4 linked regions of the Homo sapiens genome follow. The protein of the gene in region 4 purifies or fractionates together with the protein of the main gene of each other region. This does not show direct contact. Each region holds a gene or a part of one and is shown on either strand. Other genes may lie near its edges.

The links. The genes of interacting proteins can lie anywhere in the genome.
Region 1: the proteins of KCNQ3 (region 4) and SRXN1 purify together in Homo sapiens (affinity purification with mass spectrometry; one large-scale study listed by BioGRID and IntAct). This does not show direct contact.
Region 2: the proteins of KCNQ3 (region 4) and NAP1L4 purify together in Homo sapiens (affinity purification with mass spectrometry, with the first as the bait; one large-scale study listed by BioGRID). This does not show direct contact.
Region 3: the proteins of KCNQ3 (region 4) and CLPTM1 purify together in Homo sapiens (affinity purification with mass spectrometry, with the first as the bait; one large-scale study listed by BioGRID). This does not show direct contact.

Annotation. Positions count from the first base shown.
Region 1 is NC_000020.11:649,711-654,949, reverse strand, and holds the start of SRXN1 (sulfiredoxin-1), read left to right. Parts: upstream 1-1,749; 5' UTR 1,750-1,764; coding exon 1,765-1,974; exon of another isoform or gene 1,975-1,997; intron 1,998-5,239. UniProt on the Homo sapiens protein: Contributes to oxidative stress resistance by reducing cysteine-sulfinic acid formed under exposure to oxidants in the peroxiredoxins PRDX1, PRDX2, PRDX3 and PRDX4. Does not act on PRDX5 or PRDX6.
Region 2 is NC_000011.10:2,981,640-2,986,309, reverse strand, and holds part of NAP1L4 (nucleosome assembly protein 1-like 4), read left to right. Parts: intron 1-4,670. UniProt on the Homo sapiens protein: Acts as a histone chaperone in nucleosome assembly.
Region 3 is NC_000019.10:44,971,900-44,976,569, reverse strand, and holds part of CLPTM1 (putative lipid scramblase CLPTM1), read right to left. Parts: intron 3,484-4,670; coding exon 3,360-3,483; intron 2,132-3,359; coding exon 1,973-2,131; intron 1-1,972. UniProt on the Homo sapiens protein: Involved in GABAergic but not glutamatergic transmission. Binds and traps GABAA receptors in the endoplasmic reticulum (ER).
Region 4 is NC_000008.11:132,474,042-132,478,711, forward strand, and holds part of KCNQ3 (potassium voltage-gated channel subfamily KQT member 3), read right to left. Parts: intron 1-4,670. UniProt on the Homo sapiens protein: Pore-forming subunit of the voltage-gated potassium (Kv) M-channel which is responsible for the M-current, a key controller of neuronal excitability. M-channel is composed of pore-forming subunits KCNQ2 and KCNQ3 assembled as heterotetramers.

The DNA of each region.
Region 1 (5,239 bases), on a different chromosome or scaffold from region 4:
CCTGCCTCAGCCTTCCAAAGTGCTGGGATTACAGGTGTGAGCCACCGGGCCCAGCCAGAACTGGAGTCTTTGGTCACATTGTTCAACTGCCTCTTTACCAACCTTGGACATACCTACCTCCAAACATTTTATTATGTGAGAAAACAAACCTTCTTATTGCTTAAGCCATTTTGAATTGGGCCATAGATATCTTAACACAGAGAATTTGATACCAGGAAATGAGGCCTCCCTGGGTACACCATGATGATAGAATCAGGCCAGAGCTCCACTTTTCCACTCTAGAAACTGTTATCCTGCCATTCTTACTTCCTGTAATGAGGAAGATGTTTTAGAAGGGATAACTTCCCTCTTGATGAAATTCTCTAATTCTGAATAATTCTGGGGCTGAGGTGTGGGTGTCAGTTCTACTTCTTGAAATAAAGTATCATTTAGGTGCGCACGGGAATTATGTTTCGAAAGGGAAAGGCTGGAGTCTTGGTGTCAGTGTTCTAAGGTTTTGTGAGAGACTAAGAACCCAAAATAAATGATCTTCAACAGCAAAATGGATGTTATGCAATTCACAGAGCACTATGAGCACTCTCTCAATTCACACAACTTTGAGTGATGGGCAGCATGACTTCATTTTACAGACGGGGTTCAGAAAGTGTCAGCAACTGGTGGAAGGCAAAGTAGAAACTCCTGGCTCCCTCCTTCGTCTCCAGTTTTCTCCAGCTGGCAGGGTAAGTATGCATTTCTCCATGTTCGTGCCATTCAGGTTGAGAAGGAAGACAAGCAAACCAGACATGCTTGTCTTCGACCGAGTCTGGGATCGTCCACCTTCCTGCTTGGAGTTGGTGGTTAAGTGGCCCCACAGTTTGGACTCGTGTGACCTGACTTTCATTTCAGCTGACCTTGAACAGCGGGTCTATAACTGCACCTACTTCCAGTAGTGTTGTAATGACACAAACAGACAGTGTGGAACTTGAAGGCAGGGCCCACCCATTGTCAGCGCGACTCCTGAGGGCTCCGTGTGACAGTCACTGTTGCTGAACCAAGGCAGCCAACGGTGGGGTAGAAGGCGGACTCTGGAGCCAGACCGTCTGGATTTGAACGCGGATTCGGCCACTTACTAGTTCCGTGATCTTGGGTACATCACTTAAACCTGTGTCTCAGTCTCCTCTTCTGTAAAATGGGAATAACAGTCATACCTTCCTTGCAGGGTTGTTTTGAGGTTCAGATACGTTAATACACGTGCAAAATGTTCGGAACGACTCCAGACACAGCCGGCGCCAGACTGGAAGTGGAACCGCTGGTGGGGATCATAACCTCGCTGGCTAGGAACCCCAGCAGCGGGGCAGCAGCGCACCGCGGGCTTTGCCGACTCACCCTGGCTGGGCAGGTCCGCCGCGCTCTCCCCCGCCCCCGCCCCCGCGGCCTAAGTCGGCCCGGCCGGTGCGTCACCCGCGCCCCTCCCGCCCCGCGACCTGCAAACTCACCCTGAGTCAGCCCGCCCGGGCGTTTCCACTCCCCGGACGCCGCGCGGCGCAGGGGAGGCGAGAGGCGCCCCCCGGTGGAGAGCCTGAGCCCCGCGCGAGTCTGGCGGCACCTGGCGAGCGGAGCCGGAGTCGGGCTGGGGACCGCGGGGTCGAGGCCGGACCGCGGCGGGGTCGGGGGAGAAACGCGCGCTGCCCTGGCACGGGCCCCCCCCCCCGGCCGCGCGGAATGGTATGGCCCGGCCGGAGTTAAGGCCGGGGGGAGGCGGCGAGTCCCGCGGCGGCGGCGACGATGGGGCTGCGTGCAGGAGGAACGCTGGGCAGGGCCGGCGCGGGTCGGGGGGCGCCCGAGGGGCCCGGGCCGAGCGGCGGCGCGCAGGGCGGCAGCATCCACTCGGGCCGCATCGCCGCGGTGCACAACGTGCCGCTGAGCGTGCTCATCCGGCCGCTGCCGTCCGTGTTGGACCCCGCCAAGGTGCAGAGCCTCGTGGACACGATCCGGGTGAGGCCTCGGGGAGTCCAGCCAACCGGAGGGAGGGCTTCGGAGGAGGGAGGTTGCCGGAGGAGGGAGGTCGCTGCGATGGACGCGAGACGGACTGGTTCCGGGCCCAGCCGGAGCTCAGCCTCTGCTGTGTGACCTTGAGCAAGTAGCTGGGCCTCTCTGGGCCTCTGTTTCCTCACTTGAGCAAGGAGGGAATTGGGCGAGATAATTAAAGTAGTGATGATAACGCTTATAACGCTAGTGCTTGCAGTGGTCCAGGAACTGCAGGAAGTCCCTCAGTTTCCTATGCCAACCCTAGGAGGTAGATAGTGGCTCTTTTGCAGACGAGAACTGAGGCAGGGAAGATTTCAGCGGCTTGACTAAGATCAGGCGCTTAAAAAGTGACACGGCTGGAATTCACACCCAGGCAGCCTGGGCCCCACTGCCCAGCACATGGCCACCGCACTACCCGGAGATAAGCCGTGGGCTCTCATGGCTGTGACAGTCAGTGACAGTGGGACTAGGTGTGTCATATCTGCTGGGAGGCCCTTGTCTGAATGGGAAGTGGGAGAGGTCAAGGGTCAGCTCCACCACTGAGGAAGGGTGTTAAGAATACCGGAGTGATTCTGGCAGGAACTTGGGGGCCCCGCAAGAACAGGTGTCAGGTTAGGCCTACATAACGTTGTGTCCCCTTCCCCCGACCCTTGGAAGGTGAGCACATGAGATCCCTAAGCCCCACCCAGCACCTCTACAGCCACCCCCGATAACTTTCAGTCCTAGTATTTACACTAGTGTCCTCACTGCCTGGAGCCACTTCCCCAGACAACCACAGGGCCTGCTCCCCTGCCTGGTTCAGCTCTCTGCCTCCTTGATCACCCTTGGTCAGAGTCACTGGCCTCTCTAGCTCTCCCCTTAGCCCGAGATGTTTTTCAGGATACCACTTATGTCCACCAGAAATTATATTATACATCTATTTGTGTTGCATTTTATTTTCTGTCTTCCTGACCTCACGTGCACTCCACAAGGGCGAGGACCTCGTCCCATCTTATCTGTTGCCACAATAGTAGCACGGCGCCTGGCTGAGATGGGAAGGGATCTGCCATGCATGCCCTGTCCCACCACTGGGCTTTTTCTCCCGTTGAGAACCTCTTCTATCTCTGCCTTGTCGTTTCTCACTCTTTCTCGGTCTTCCTGTCTCAGTGTCAGGATCTTCCCTGACCATCCCTACCGGGTTAGGAGCTTCTGTGGGCCTGCAGCCACCTGTGTGCCCACCTGCATAGCTCTGATCTCACTGGCTTTTTTTTTTTTTTTTTAAGACGTTGTCTGGGTCTGTCACCCTGGCTGGAGTGCAGTGGCACGATCTTGGCTCACTGCAACCTCCGCCTCCCGGGTTCAAGCCATTCTCCTGCCTCAGCCTCCCAAGTAGCTGGGATTACAGGCGCCCACCACCACGCCTGGCTAATTTTTGTATTTTTAGTAGAGATGGGGTTTCACCCTGTTGGCCAGGCTGGTCTGAAACTCCAGACCTCAAGCGATCTGCCCACCTCGGCCTCCCAAAGTGCTGGGATTACAGCCCACTGGCTTTTAACGTCCTGTCTAGACACCTGCCTTCCGTGCTAGAACCGTAGGCTCTGAGGGCCAGAACCAGCTCTGCCTTTGCTTACATACACCTGTATTAGTTTTCTGGGGCCACTGTAAGTTACCACAAAGTTGATGGCTTAAAACAACACAGGTTTATTTATGGTCAGAAGTCCAAAATGGGTCTTACTGGGCTAACACCAAGCAGGGCTGCACTACTTTCTGTAGGCTCTAGGGGAGAATCCATTTCCTCGCCTTTCCCAGCTTCCAGACGCCACCCACACTGCTTGGCTTATGGCCTCTTCCTCTGTCTTCAAAGCCAGCAACATCAGGCCAAGGCCTTCTCACATCGCATCACTCTGACCTCTTCCTCTACTTCCTCTTCCAGTTTTAAGGACCCTGATAATGGCATTCGACCCATCTAGATAACCTTGGATAATTTCCGCATCTCAGGATCCTTACCTTAATTCTGTCTGCCAAGTCCCTTCTCCCATGTAAGGTAACACATTCAGAAGCATTCGGGCGTGGACATCTTTGGGAGCCATCATTCTGGCCATCCACCATCGTGCCTCCAGTACCCGGCACAAGGCCTGCCTGGCACGGCTGCCCTCCTTAGTGCTCCACTAATGCCCGGTAGGCATCAGCTCACTGACTCTTCATCAGCAGCCCTCTAGGATGTTTTATTCCCAGTTTACAGGTGAGGAATGGTGTTCAGAGGGCTGTGTGCCCCAGCTGCTGTGGAGAGGAGCTGAGATCCAAAGTCAGGTGTGCCAGGTTCCAGAGCTCAGGCTTGTGACTGCTGCACCTTACTGCTGAATAATCATTTGTGGAATCATGAGAGAGAACCCGTGGACCAGCAGCAGGAGGCCTTCCACGCCGCTCACACTTAATGGGGTCTCCCCAGAGTGCTCTACCCTGCACCCGTCCTGCCCCAGACTTTCCCTGTTTAGAGGATGACCTACTCTCCACCTGGCTGTGTGGGCCCCTAACAGGAAGTCAACTTAGATTCTCCCTTTTCTCTTGCCCTTGGATTCACCCCTTCTGCCAGACCCCTTGGGCCTGCCCCGTAAATGTGTCCCAAACCTGTCTACCTCTCCCTGTCCCCACCACACCATCATCCAGACCAGCATCTTCTGCTGAATACCTGCAGAGGCCTCCCCTCTGCCTTCCAGCCCTGTGCCCTGTCCACCCTGCCAAGTCTGTTCTCCTGTGACAACTTTCTAGAACATGCATCAGATCATGTCACCCTCCCCTGTTGCCAACACTCCAGGGCCCACCCACTGCTCTCAGAAGCAGACCTGCACCATCTGGCTCCTGCTGGCCTTTCTGACCATTCCTGGAGCCCTGGAGTCCACTCTAGTGAACTCCTTGCTGTGCCTCCTACACAGTGAACGTGCTCTGGTTTCAAGTCCTTTGCGTTTGCTGTTCCCTTTGCATGGAACGTTCTTCCCTCAGGTCATACACAGCATACATTACTGAGCACTTTCCGTGTGCCAAGCATGGTTTGAAGTGCTTTATATATATTAACCCATTTAACCCAAAAATTCTATGAGATGGATCTGTTATCTCCATCCAATTTGATAGATGGGGCAACTGAGGCACAAAAAGATGAATTGCCCAAGATCACATAGCTGTTAAGCAGCAGAGCTAGATTTGAACCCAGGCAGTTGAGCTCTTAATCGAAACTATTCCACTTCTCTCTTTTTTT
Region 2 (4,670 bases), on a different chromosome or scaffold from region 4:
CTCCGCCCCCCAGGTTCAAGCAGTTCTCCTGCCTCAGCCTCCTGAGTAGCTGGGACCTCAGGCGTGTGCCACCATGCCCAGCTGATTTTTGTATTTTTAATGGAGATGGAATTTCACCACGTTGGCCAGGCTGACCTCGAACTCCCGACCTCATGTGATCCGCCCGCCTTGGTCTCCCAAAGTGCTGGGATTACAGGCGTGAGCCACCGTGCCTGGCCATGGCCCAATTTTATAGTTACTCTAGCTATGGAGTAGATGTTTTCAGTTCAAAATTAGGAATTTAAGGTTATATTTTGTTACAAAAATCTTTAAAAATTTCATAAGAAAACAGTTGTTTGGGGTACAAAGAAATTAATCCATAAATAGGATTGTTACAGTGACTAATATAAATAAAAGAACATTTGTGTAATCATGGGAATTATTTTATTTTATTTTTCCTCGACCCAATTAACTGGGTGAAAATTTGCTTGCCAGTTCAGATTTAGAATTGTAGACACAGTTAAAGTTTTTGACCTTGGGAGGGAACCTGAACTTTAGAAAACTTACAACATTCTTTTGCCTGGTATCCCTTTCATAATTTAACTTGATTGTCTTTTATTTATTTTTAGTTATTATTTATTAACACAAAATTATATTTATGATGTATAATGCGATGTTTTGAAGTACTATACATTGTGGAATGGCTAAGTCAAGTTAATTCACATTAGGTGGTATACTGATTCTGACAAGAACACTTAACATCTACTCTCAGCAATTTTTCAATTATGTGATACATTGTTGTTAACTATAGTCACCAGGTTGTATAGATCCCTTGATTGCCTTTTAAAAGTGAGAGAACCTTCTGGATGAGTCTTCGGGCTGTGGTTTTATAAGACTAGTATTAAACTGAACATAACATTTAAAACAAACAGATATTTATTTTCCTCAAACCTGTATATTTGATAGTTCCTTATAACTTTCTGTTTTAAGGGTGATAGGGATTGATAAACAAAAATAATTTGTGGTGCTGAAACTTGACTGAACTCTAGCTTGTTTATAATACCACCTCTCTACATTGTCTTTCCTTATTCAGGTTGAGCACTCCTGATCCCAAAATCAAAAATCCAAATGCTCCAAATTCTGAAACTCCGTTAGTGTTGACATTAATGTTACAAGTGGAAAATTTCACACCTGACTTCACGTGATGGATCACAGTTAAAACTTTGTTTCATGCACAAAATTATTTAAAATATTGTATAAAATTACCTTCAGTCTATGTGAATAAGATGTGTGGGAAACGTGAATGAATTTCATGTTTAGATTTGGGTCCCATCCCCAAGATACCTGATCATGTTTATACAAATATTCTAAAATCTGAAACACTTCTGGTCCCAAGCATTTCAGATAAGAGATACTCAACCTGTATAAAGGGTGCAGTGTTTAAAGTAACTTGATTTGTTGGTTTCATATCAAGGAATAGATGTAGTCTATATGCATGGCAGTTACAAAAGTGAAAAGAGACCTGGCCTGCTGTTATGTACTAGGAAATTTGTCTCCATTAACAGTTTCTCAGGTAGCCACTGTCTTCTAGTTTGTGGATGATGAAACTGAGGTCCAGAGGAAGGTTATGCAGAAGAGCATGAGTGGGAATGAGTATGGGGAAGTAGACAGGGCCTGAATTGGTAGGAATGTGTATTCTGCAGAAGGTGACGGGGGACCATTGAAGTGTGTTTGTTAGTTTTTTGTTTGTTTGTTTTTTGAGACAGAGTTTCGCTCTTGTTGCCCAGGCTGGAGTGCAATGGCGAGATCTCGGCTCACTGCAACTTCCGCCTCCTGGGTTCAAGAGATTCTCCTGCCTCAGCCTCCTGAGTAGCTGAGATTACAGGCATGCGCCACCATGCCCGGCTAATTTTGTATTCTTAGTAGAGACGGGTTTCTCCGTGTTGGTCAGGCTGGTCTCGAACTCCTGACCTCAGATGATCCGCTCGCCTCGGCCTCCCAAAGTACTGGGATTACAGGTGGGAGCCACCACACCTGGCCTTTGTTAAAGGGTTTTTAAATCTTCACTGACTAGGGCTGGGTTTGGGTTGCTGCTGTGGTCGTGGTGGTGAGCATAGCCAGCCATTGTAGGGTTTGTTGCCTTTTTTTTTTTTTTTTTTTTTTTGAGGCAGGGTCTTGCTCTGTTGTCCAGGCTGGAGTTCAGTGGCGCAGTGATAGCTCACTGCAGCCGCCAGGCCTCCAACTCCTGGGCTTGAGTGTTGCTTCTGTCTCAGCCACTCAAGTAGCTGGGACCAGAGGCATCAACCACTGTGTCCAGCCTCATTTTTTTTTTTTTTCTTTTTGTTTTGAGACAGTCTCACTCTGTCTCCCAGGCGGGAGTGCAGTGGTGTTATTTCAGCTTACTGCAACCTCTGCCTCCTGTGCTCAAGCGATTCTCCTGCCTCAGCCTCCTGAATTGGGACTACAGGTTCACACCACCATGCCTGGCTAATTTTGTTTTTTTTGTTGTTTTTGTAGAGACGAGGTTTCCCCATGTTGCCCAGGCTGGTCTGAAACTCCTGAGCTTCAGGTGATCTGTGATAGGGGTAGGATTTGAAACCAGGCTGTTCAGTGTGTGTCTGTCTTGTTCTAGGCATTGAGTTCTGGGTTGGTTGGTTCTTTAGTCAAAATTATTTTCTTTTTTATTGTGTAAATTCATTATTTTTTTTCTATCCTTGATTTAGCACTTTTTTTTTTTTCCAGAATACCGTGTTGGGTTTAACTTAACTGCCTTGTCATCTTGTTAACAAAAATTGTATTAAACAGCACATGCCGGGCTGGGCATGGTGCCTCTGTCCTATAATCCCAGCACTTTGAGAGGCTAAGGTGGGAGGATCACTTGAGGCTAGGAGTTTGAGACTGCAGTGAGCTATGATCCTGCCACTGCACTCTAGCCTGGGTAACAGAGTGAGACTGTGTGTCTCTTTAAAAAAGCACAGCCTTCACTTAAATGAAAATTGAGTGAATCATTTTATCAATGGACTCTGTTAAGTTGGAACAGGTACCATTCCATGGGAAGGTGAACCTCTTTGGCTCATGTCCTAACACAGGTGGTTTATGCTTTCAACAGATATTTATTATGCCAGGAACTGTTAGGGGCTCTGGGGCTGCATAGTGAACAGCATCAAAAGGGAGTATTGTCACACTCCATTTGTAGACAAAATGGATTTCTTGGAGATGCTGCTGAACAGTAGGATTTCAACCCTGACTAAGCTGTTGCTTGTCACTTGTTCCAATAGCAGCAACAGGTTTTTTGTTTTTTGTTTTTTTTTGAGATGGAGTCTTGCTGTGTTGCCCAGGCTGGAGTGCAGTGGTGCAATCTTTGCTCACTGCAAACTCCGCCTCCTGGGTTCAAGCAGTTCTCCTGCTTCAGCCTCCCAGTTGCTGGGATTACAGGCGAGTGCCACCATGCCCAGCTAATTTTTGTATTTTTAGTAGAGACGGGGTTTTACCATGTTGGCCAGGCTGGTCTTGAACTCCTCACGTCGTGATCTGCCCGCCTTGGCCTCCCAAAGTGCTGGGATTACAGGTGTTAGCCCCCAGGCCCAGCCTAGCAGCAACAGAATCTTTAATGAGCAAGTAGAAACAGCCAGAAGTGAAGTGGTGTTGGTACTAGGGAAAGGTTAGAAGGAGTCAGATTTGAAACACGAATGCATGTTTTACTAGCCGTGTGACTTTCAATTTGGCACCTCACCTTTCCAAGCCTCAGCTTCTTTTCGTGTAAACTGAGGATAGTCCCTCCCTAGTGGAGTTTCTCTTGGTATTAAATGTATGAAGTGCCTGACATGTAGGTCCCTTGCTAGTATAGGAGGTGCTGGAAATGAAGTATGTGTCTTTACGAGGTGTTACTGATAGGGTGATGACAACAAGAATCTGTCCATTAAACTGACAGTGTTAGATGTTTCCAGGTTAGTAGGCTTCTTTCAGCAATTAGTGTGTATGTGTGGGGTAAGGAAGGTGCTATGAGATACATTTCTTAGGCAATAGAGAGCTTCAATTAAGTAGCCAAATTACAGTTGATGTTATTGTGTAACTGTTTTGGCAGTATGTATCAGAATCCATTCATGCTCTTTGACCCAGAAATGCTACTGTAGCGGTCCTGCTATTGCCATATCAATTAAGGATAACTGGGAGTGGGAAGCCATATAAGCCAAGATGTTCATAGAGACATTATCAAAGGTATATAACAGAAAAAAACACCTCATTCTTTAACAGCTGGTAAGTGGTGTTTTAGCTCTTAGAATGTTGTCCTTAAACAATTGTTATGAAGTCTGACTGTCTCACACCTTGCATTTAGAATATGTGAGAAGGGAACTAACCTCAGGAATACTGTGATTGCAGCAAACATGGTGGAGGAGCGTGAGTGGGAATGAGTGTGGGGAGGTAGACAGGGCCTGAATCAGTAGGAATGTGTATTCTGCAGAAGGTGACGGGGGACCATTGAAGGGTGTTTTGTTTGTTTTTGAGACGGAGTTTTGCTCTTGTTGCCCAGGCTGGAGTGCAGTGGCTTGATCTTGGCTCACGGCAACCTCTGCCTCCTGTATTCAAGCGATTCTCCTGCCTCAGCCTCCCGAGTAGCTGGGATTACAGGCGTGTGCCACCATGCCCGGCTAATTTTGTATTTTTAGTAGAGACGGGTTTCTCCATGTTGG
Region 3 (4,670 bases), on a different chromosome or scaffold from region 4:
CCTCTCTGATCCTTGTGCAGAGCTCGAATTCAGTTGGCCACATTGTGTTCTCCTCACTCTCCCTATCTTTTTTAGAGATGGGGTCTTCCTGTGTTGCCCAGGCTGGAGTGCACTGGCTATTTGCAGTTGCGATCATGGCACACTACAGTCTTAAACTCCTGGGCTCTGGCCATTCTCCCACCTCAGCCTCCTGAGTAGCTGTGCCTACAGGCACATGCCACTGTGCCCAGCTCTCCTGCCTTTTAAGTCCACTTGGACCCCACCCTGAAGCTTCGACTTAGATCCAAGCCCTTGGAAGCAGATCCCCCTGCTGGGCCTGCCAGGCCCTGGTCCTTCCTTGGATCTCGTGGCAAGGCCTGGGGGCTGGGCTTGAGGTCTCTGTGGGAGTCACCTCTCAGTGCAGGTCAGAAAGTCCAGCCAGGTGGGGTGGTTCATGCCTGTAATTCCAGCACTTTGAGAGGCTGAGGTGAGAGGATCGCTTGAGCAGAGGAGTTTGAGACCAGCCTGGGAAACATGTTGAGACCCCATCTCTACAAAAAATTAGCTGGGCATGGTGGTGCATGCCTGTTGTCCCAGCTACTTGGGAGGCTGAGGTGAAAAGATTGCTTGAGCCCAGGAGGTTGAGGCTGCAGTGAGCTGTAATTGCACCACTGCACTTCAGCCTAGGCAACAGAGCAAGACCCCATCTCAAAAAGAAAAGAATGATGGCTGGACGCGGTGTCTCACGCCTGTAATCCCAGCACTTTGGGAGACCAAGGTAGGTGGATCACTTGAGGTCAGGAGTTCAAGGCCAACCTGGCCAACATAGTGAAACCTTGTCTCTACTAAAAAATAAAAAAATTAGCTGGGTGTGATCATGTGTGCCTTAGTCCCAGCTACTCAGGAGGCTGGCACATGAGAATCGCTTGAACCTGGGAGGTGAAGTTGCAGTGAGCCAAGGTTGCGCCACTGCCCTCCAGACTGGGTGACAGAGCGAGACGCTGTCTCAAAAAAAAACAAAAAACAAAAAAAAAAACCAGAATGACTGTGTCCACATTCTGCTTCTAGCTACCCAGACAGAAATAGAACAGAAATGTGCCCTCCACCCCAAAGCTGAGAAGGCCTGCTGGGGAGAAAGGAATGAGGGCAGCTGTCTTGGACTCAGCCGAAGAAGGCCCCAAAGAGAGATGTCCCTTTTACTTGTTCAATACTTGCTGATTCTGCACCCAGCCCCACGTTGGGCAGTGCTGGGGACATGGAAGTGATCTAGGCAGCCCCAGCCTTATTATCACAAGGCTCACAGTCCCATACAGGAGTCCCAATGAGGCCCCAGAATGGGCTGGGATGGGGAAGCCCAGCAGGTGTGAGAACCCAGAGAGGGTGCTTAACCAAGCCTGAGTGCTCTGTGAGTCAGGGAGGGCTTCCTGGAGGAGGTTGGATTTGAGCCTAGGGCTGCGAGAGTCCACAGCCGTAGAGCCTGAGTCTGAATCTCTCATGCGATGTGGCCTTGGGTAAATCACTTTCCTTCTCTCTCAGTTTCCTCACATGTTAAATGAGAATAATAACAGTTCCTGCTTCACAGGGTTGCCGGGAAATTTCCATGAGTCAGCCTAGCTTAGTACCCTGCACTTAGCTCAATCAACATTAACTAATATTATTTTGAAACGGGGCTGCCTGATAAACTGGTGATAGGCAAACATCCCCAAGGACAATTACTAATCTTTCACCAGTTTAAAGTGGAGGACTGCACAACCTTAGAGGTAGCTGGGAGGGTCCCAGGCCAATTCCACCCCTATCTACCTTTTTCAGGTAGGGGAAAGTGAAGCCCAGAGATCTCAGGGACTGGCTTGTGGTCACAGACCATGTGAGCCCAGGGAAGGGCCAAGCCTGGAGCCCAAACTCCACATGCTCTCAGCAAGGAGCGGACTGGAGGAAAAGGTCCTTCAGTGCCAGTCAAGCAGCCATGGGGCCAGAAACCGAGAGCTGCCCCCACCTGTGGGATATCGAGCTCAGCAAAGTGCTCGTAGCAGCCGTCTGAGTTCTCGCCGCTAGTCCAGTCGCCATACACAAGATCGTGCTGTTCCCAGAAGAGTGCCGACGTGGCGTTGAAGTCTGTAAAGTGCTCGTGCTCTGAGATGTACACATGCAGGTTCTGTTGGGACAGGAAGGGAACAGAGCTCAGGCCTGCTCTTCAGAGCCTCTGCAGGCTGGCTAAAGAGCTATGGCAGCGGTCAGCACACTCAGGGGAACAGTAATTATGGAGGACAGGGGAGAGGAGAGAGGAAGAGCAGCAGAGAGGACATATTTTCTCTTTTCTCATACCACCATGTTTGTCCTGGTCTGAGCCTGTGAAGTCAACGAACAAAGAACACTTGGAGACTGGCCAGCCTGCCAATTAGAATTTAGGGGTAGGAAGGGGCAGGAGCTCCCTGAATGATCTCCTGCCCTCATGGCTGCTGGGCCTTCCTGGTCAGAGCTCTGCAGGCTTATGGACGAAGCAGTCCAGAGCTACAAAAGCACTGTGAGCCACCGGGCACGGTGGCTCATGCCTGTGATCCCAGCACGTTGGGAGGCCAAGGCGGGTAGACCACTTGAGGTCAGGAGTTCGAGACCAGCGTACCAAAAAGGTAAAACCCCATCTCTACTAAAAATACAAAAAATTAGCTGGACGTGGTGGCACATGCCTGTAATCCCAGCTAGTCGTGAGGCTGAGGCAGGAGGATCACTGGAGCCCGGGAGGCAGAGGTTGCAGTGAGCTAAGATTATGCCACTGCACTCTAGCCTGGGCGACAGAGTGAGACTCCATCTCAAAAAAAAAAAAAAAAAAAACCCACTGTGACCCAACAAGAACTTCCTCCTTTCTCAAGCCCCAATGGCCATGTTTGCTCAGAAAAGCCTAGACTGACAGATCTAAATGCTTTTGCTCTGGAGGCTCCTGAAGCCCTGCCCTGCCTGTGCCCAAGCCCACTGTGGAAGTGCAGGTCTCCTCTCCTTCCGGGCCCACCTCCTGTCAGCCTCTGCTGGCTCCCTGCCCTCCCCACCTCTCACACTCTCTCCCTTGCACATCTCCCTCTGCAACCCTGAAAGGCTGAACATACTTTTGAAATATAACATCCAAAGACCCTGATTTAACCTATTTTAACCAAATGAATTTGCTTTTTCTTTTGGGTGACACAGGTTTTATGTGCTGGGGATGGACCCAGGTGACAGAGGTCTCACGTGTTGGGGATGGGCCCAGAGTTCCTCAACCCTGGACCTGTTTTCCTAGACCTGCCAGTGAGCAAGGACCTGGTCTGTCCCGACTGCTGACATCACTCCTCCACATTCCACCCCTCCACACCCCATCACCTCCCAAGTCTGCCCTACCACCCGGCAGTTACCATTAAAGTGTCTTTGGGGAACAGGTTGCGGCTGGCGACGCGTGGAGCTCCTCCGGGGCCCGCCTGGTCCTGAGGGGCCGGCCCTCGGCGGAACCAACTGCTGATGGCCCAGATGATGAAGATCCTGAGGAGAGAAGCAGCAAGGTGGTGAGTCCCCAAGCCTTGGCTCTCCGCCATAGACCCGCCTGACTTCCTTCTGACTTAGCACATGCTGGCGCCTGACCTGGGGCTAGTGACCAAGTCAGGGAGGCCCTGAGAAGGTAGTCACAGGGCTGGCAAGGAGATAAGATGTCCCTAAAGACCACATCTGGGGAGGGAGCCCAGATGCCACCGTTTGCCAGTGTGTGGGGGTAGCTGGCACTGCCCTGGTCTGCATGCAGACCCTTGACTCTAAATCCTGCAGGAGCTCCTGGTGACCACAGGGCTGCAGGGGCTGACTCTTGACTCAGACTGGGAAACCTGCCATCCAGCCCCCTGGGATCCCCCGAGAGGAGACTAAGAATCTGGAACCCCTTCAGTGTGCAGATGGATGAATTAAAAGAAAAAAGAAATAAAGAAAAAATAATAAACATAAAATTTTTAAAAGAAAGAATCTGGAATCCTAGCGCTTCAAAAGCACAGAACCGGGGATGGTTAATGGCTACAAAAAATAGAATGAACGAGGACGGGCGCGGCGGCTCATGCCTGTAATCCCAGCACTTTGGGAGGCCAAGGCGGGCGGATCACGAGGTCAGGAGATTGAGACCATCCTGGCTAACATGGTGAAACCCTGTCTCTACTAAAAAATACAAAAAAATTAGCTGGGCATGGTGGCGGGCGCCTGTAGTCCCAGCTACTCCGGAGGCTGAGGCAGGAGAATGGTGTGAACCCAGGAGGCAGAGGTTGCAGTGAGCCAAGATCGCGCCACTGCACTCCAGCCTGGGCAACAGAGCGAGACTCCATCTCAAAAAAAAAAAGAATGAATGAGATCTAGTATTTGGTAGCAAAACACGGCAACTCTAGTCAATAGTAATTTAATTACACATTTTAAAATAACTTAAGAAGTATAGAGGCCAGGCACAGTGGCTCATGCCTGTAACTTTGGGAGGCTGAAGTGGGCAAATCACGAGGTCAAGAAATCGAGATCATCGTGGCCAACATGGTGAAACCCTGTCTCTACTAAAAATACAAAAATTAACTGGGCCTGGTGGTGCGTGCCTCTAGTCCCATCTACTTGGGAGGCTGAGGCAGGAGAATCACTTGAACCCGGGAGGCGTAGGTTGCAGTGAGCCGAGATTGCGCCACTGCCCTCCAGCCTTGCAACAGAGTGAG
Region 4 (4,670 bases):
GCTGTGGCAAGATGGTCAGGGCAGCAGGATGCCTATCCAGTGCCAAATGAGATGAATGCCAAGATGAAGCCAGCATCTTTTCACTAACAGGCAAAGAAAGGGGAATCCCTGGACAGCCTCAGGACAGTCACAGTGTCAGGTATGTATGACTTTTAAGGAGATCCCTATTCAGAATTAACTAATGTATACTGAGTGCCTAGTGTTGGGCTAACTGCATTCATATATACTATTCTTTGAGACTAAAAACCACCCTGTGATAGGGTAGTGTAATCATCCTCAATTTATAGGTCATCCCCAACTTGACTCCTGCAGTCACAGAGACACAAAGCAGTCCAGATGTGAACTCCAAGTCTAGCATGTTTTTCATAAAATCAGAATCTCTTTCAGCCATAAGGTTAAAAAAACTAGAGAAGTGATCACCCTCACTCAAGTTAAAGCATGGTCTCCAATCTTGTTTTCTCTCCCATAGTCCATTTTTGGACTTCTAAGAACTATTCTTATAATTAAAGTCCTGTAATGCTGGCTTTGACTACTTACTGTTACTGGGATAGTAGTAAAGCTATTGCAGCAAAGTCTTGATTAACCAGAACCCTTACAGAATTCTCACATGCATCCATTCAGCAAATGCTTACTTAGTACCTACCATGCACTCTGCAGCCTGCTGTGGAGTGGTAAGGTTACAGGAGAATAAGCAGCTCCCACTCTCAAGTAGCTCTCAGCTCAACAGGGCAGACAAGCAGAGATCAATCAAATGCGAGGTACAAAATTCTATGCCTGGGGAAGCTGGGCCAAGGTGAAGGGGAGTCACCAAGTGAAAGCAGGGGATGGGCATTTGATATGGTTTGTCTCTGTGTCCCCATCCAAAACTCATCTCAAATTGTAATCCCCACATGTTTCCAGAGTGGCCTGGTGGTAGGTGACTGAATCATGGGGGTGGATTTCCCCCTTGCTCTTGTCGTGATAGAATTCTCATAAGATCCAGTTGTTTGATAAGTGTGTGACTCTTCCCCTTCACTCTTGCGCTCTCTCCTGGCACCACGTAAGACATTCCTGCTTCCCCTTCTGCCACGATTGTAGGTTTCCTGAGACTTCCCCAGCCATGCAGAACTGTGAGTCAACTAAACCTCTTTCCTTTATAAATTACCCAGTCTCAGGTATTTCTTTATAGCAGTGTGAAAATGGACTAATACAGGAAATTGGTGCCTGGAGTTTGGGGCACTCCCATAAAGATACTTGCAAGTATGGAAGAGACTTTGGAACTGGGTAATGGGCAGAGGTTGGGACAGTCTAGAGGGCTCAGAAGAAGATCAGAAATTGTGGGAAGGTTTGGAACTTCCCAGTGACTTACTGAATGGTTTTGACCAAAATGCTGACAGTGATATGGACAATGAAGTCCAGGCTGAGGTGGTCTCAGATGGAGATGAGGAACTTATTGGGAACTGGGGTAAAGGACACTTATGGTATGCTCTGTCAGAGACTGGTAGCATTTTGCACCTGCCCTAAAGATCTGTGGAACTTTGAACTTCAGAGGATGATTTAGGGTATCTGGTGGAAGAAATTTCTAAGCAGCAAAGCATTCAAGAGTTAACCTGGCTTATTCTGAAAACATTCAGTTATGTGCGTTCACAAAGGGATGGTCTGAAATTGGAACTGATATTGGTAAGGAAAGCAGAGCATAAGGATTTAGAAAACTTGTAGCCTGACCATGTGGTAGAAAAGAAAAACCCATTTTCTGCGGAGGAATTCAAGCCAGCTGCAGAAATATGCATAAGTAATGAGGAGTTGAATGTTAATAGCCAAGACAACAGGGAAAATGTCTCCAGGGCACATCAGAGAATTTTGTGGCAGCCCCTCCAATCACAGGCCCAGAGGCCTAGGGGGGAAAAATGGTTTCCTGGGCCAGGCCCAGGGCCCCACTGCTCTGTGAAGCTGCTGGACTTGGTGCCCTGTGTCCCAGCCGCTCCAGTTCCAGCCATGGCTAAAAGGGAGCAAGGTACAGCTCAGCCCATTGCTTCAGAGTGTGCAAGCACTGAGCCTTGGTGGCTTCTGTGTGGTGTTGGGCCTGTGGGTGCACAGAAGACAAGAGTTAGGCTTTGGGAACCTCCACCTAGATTTCAGAGGAGGTATGGAAACACCTGGATGTCCAGGCAGGAGTCTGCTGCAGGAGTGAAGCTCTCATAGAGAACCTCTGTGAGGGCAGTGCAAGAGGAAATGTGAGGTTGGAACCCCCACACAGAATCCCCAATGGGACACTGCCTAGTTGGACTGTGAGAAGAGGGCCACCGTCCTCCAGACCCCAGAATGGTAGATCCACAGACAGCTTGCACTGTGTGCCTGGAAAAGCCACAGGTACTCAATGCCAGCCCATGGAAGCAGCCACAGGAGTTGAACCCTGTAGAGTCACAAGGGTGGAGCTGCCCAAGGCCATGGAAGCCCAAGCCTTGCATTAGGGTGGCCTGGATGTGAGACATGGAATCAAAGGACATTATTTTGGAGCTTTTTTAATGCATGCCCTGCTGGGTTACAGACTTGCATGGGGCCTGTGGCCCATTTGTTTTGGCCAATTTCTCCCGTTTGCAATGGAAACATTTACCCAATGCCTATACTCCCATTGTATCTTGGAAGTAACAAACTTTTTTTTTATTTTACAGGTTCATTGGCAGGAGCAACTTGCTTGTCTCAGATGAGACTTTGGACTTAGACTTTTGAGTTAATGCTGGAATGAGTTAAGACCTTAGGGTGCTGTTGGGAAGGCATGATTGGTTTTGAAATATGAAAAGGACATGAGATTTGGGAGGAAGCAGGGGCAGAATGATATGTTTTCGCTCTGTGTCCCCACCCAACTCTCGTCTCAAATTATAATACCCACATATTGTGGGAGTCGCCTGGTGGGAGGTGACTGAATCATGTGGGCATATTTTCCCCTTGCTCTTCTCCTGATAGAAGTTTCAGGAGATCTGGTTGTTTGATAAGTGTGTGGCTCTTCCCCTTTGTTCTCTTTTTCCTGCCACCATGTAAGATGTGCCTGGCTTCCTCTTCCCCTTTGCCTTCTTCCATGATTGTAAGTTTCCTGAGACCACCCCTTCCCACCTCCGCCAGCCACGCAGAACTGTGAAACAATTAAACTTCTTTCCTTTATATATTACCCAGTCTCAGGTATTTCTTTATAGCACTGTGAAAACAGACTAATACAGCATTTGAGGCAAAAGAAACAAGGTAAGGGTTTGATTGATTTCCATATTTCCTGTATTCTACCTTTAGGAAGGAGAAAAAAAATAATCTCATCATGGACCTGGTTCATTTTAATTTAAAAAAAAAAAAAAAGCATCCACTAGATTGTAGGCCTATGGTAAGCCCAATTTCCTGGGCCCATTGTGCCATTAGCCACAGCCCAGAACAAGATAATGGATGCTTGAAAACATAAATTTCAATGCAAAATCCTGAATCATCAAGGAAAGGTTCAATTATGTTCACTTGACTGGACTGTCTCCTAAGCTGCAGGGAGAATGTACTATGCATGTACTAAGTAAGTATGCTTCAATATTAGGAGCTCAATGGGAATTCAACACAGGTTTTCCTGTGTAGCTCCCAATTTATCAGAATCCGCAATCCCACCACCACCCCAGTTCATCCTCAATTTTCCTAACACTGTGGCTTCCTGAGTTCTGACCAGCCCCCAACTTGATTCTAAACTCTCATTTCTAGCAATTTGCCATCTGAGAGCTAGCAAGGGGAGGCCAAGGAATTACTCATGGCCCTGCATTAACAATGGGGAAAGGGGCACCCAGTGACGCTCAGCAAAATACCCAGGGTCCCACAATTGTTGGAAGAGCATCAGAACTGGAATCTTGGCTCAGAAACAGAGTGAACCCACTGCATTCAAATGCGAGCTCCAGGAACCTTAGCTGTGTGATCGCGGACAAGTGATTTTCTCTCTTGAGGTTTTCATATCTTTATATAACGGAGATAATAATTTCCATCTAATAGTACTGTGTGAGGATTAAATAAAATTAGTACATTTGCATATTTGCATATATATGCATTTGCATATATAGTTCCTAGCTAGGTAACTGACTTTCTTCTCACAAAGTCTTAAATTTTCCTGGATCCTTTTTGGGAAACAGGCTCCAGGTTTTGGCATTATCAAATCTGCTTCCAGGTGATGCAATAATTCTAGAAAAAAATAAAATTGAGGCTCAGTCAGTAACAGCTTTAGCTATTCCCTTCCCCAGACTGGACAAGGCAGGGCTGGAGGTGCTGGCTGGGAAAGGTGGGAAGAGAAGAAAGAGGGAGCCCACATGCTTCCATAGGACCCCCAGGTTTTTCAGTCAGTACGTACTGAACGCGATGTGCATGTGAAAGGACACGTGAATCATTGTATGACTGTGTGCACTCAACGAACTTCTTGTGCCTTTTTTAACTATCACATATTTCAGTATTCACTTCAATTTAACTAAACATATTGCTAGAGACAGAGAGAGGAATGTATTTTAATGCTTTTTTTTCGGCCACCTAAAAAGAGCAAATGAAAGAGCAACAATTGTTAAGCCGTCTCTCCAACCAGACCCCGACCAACACCTGCAAATAGACACACACACACACACATACACACGCACACTCATACAGACACCAACATCCACGTTTCTGGGAAAATGCCCCACTCCCACCCC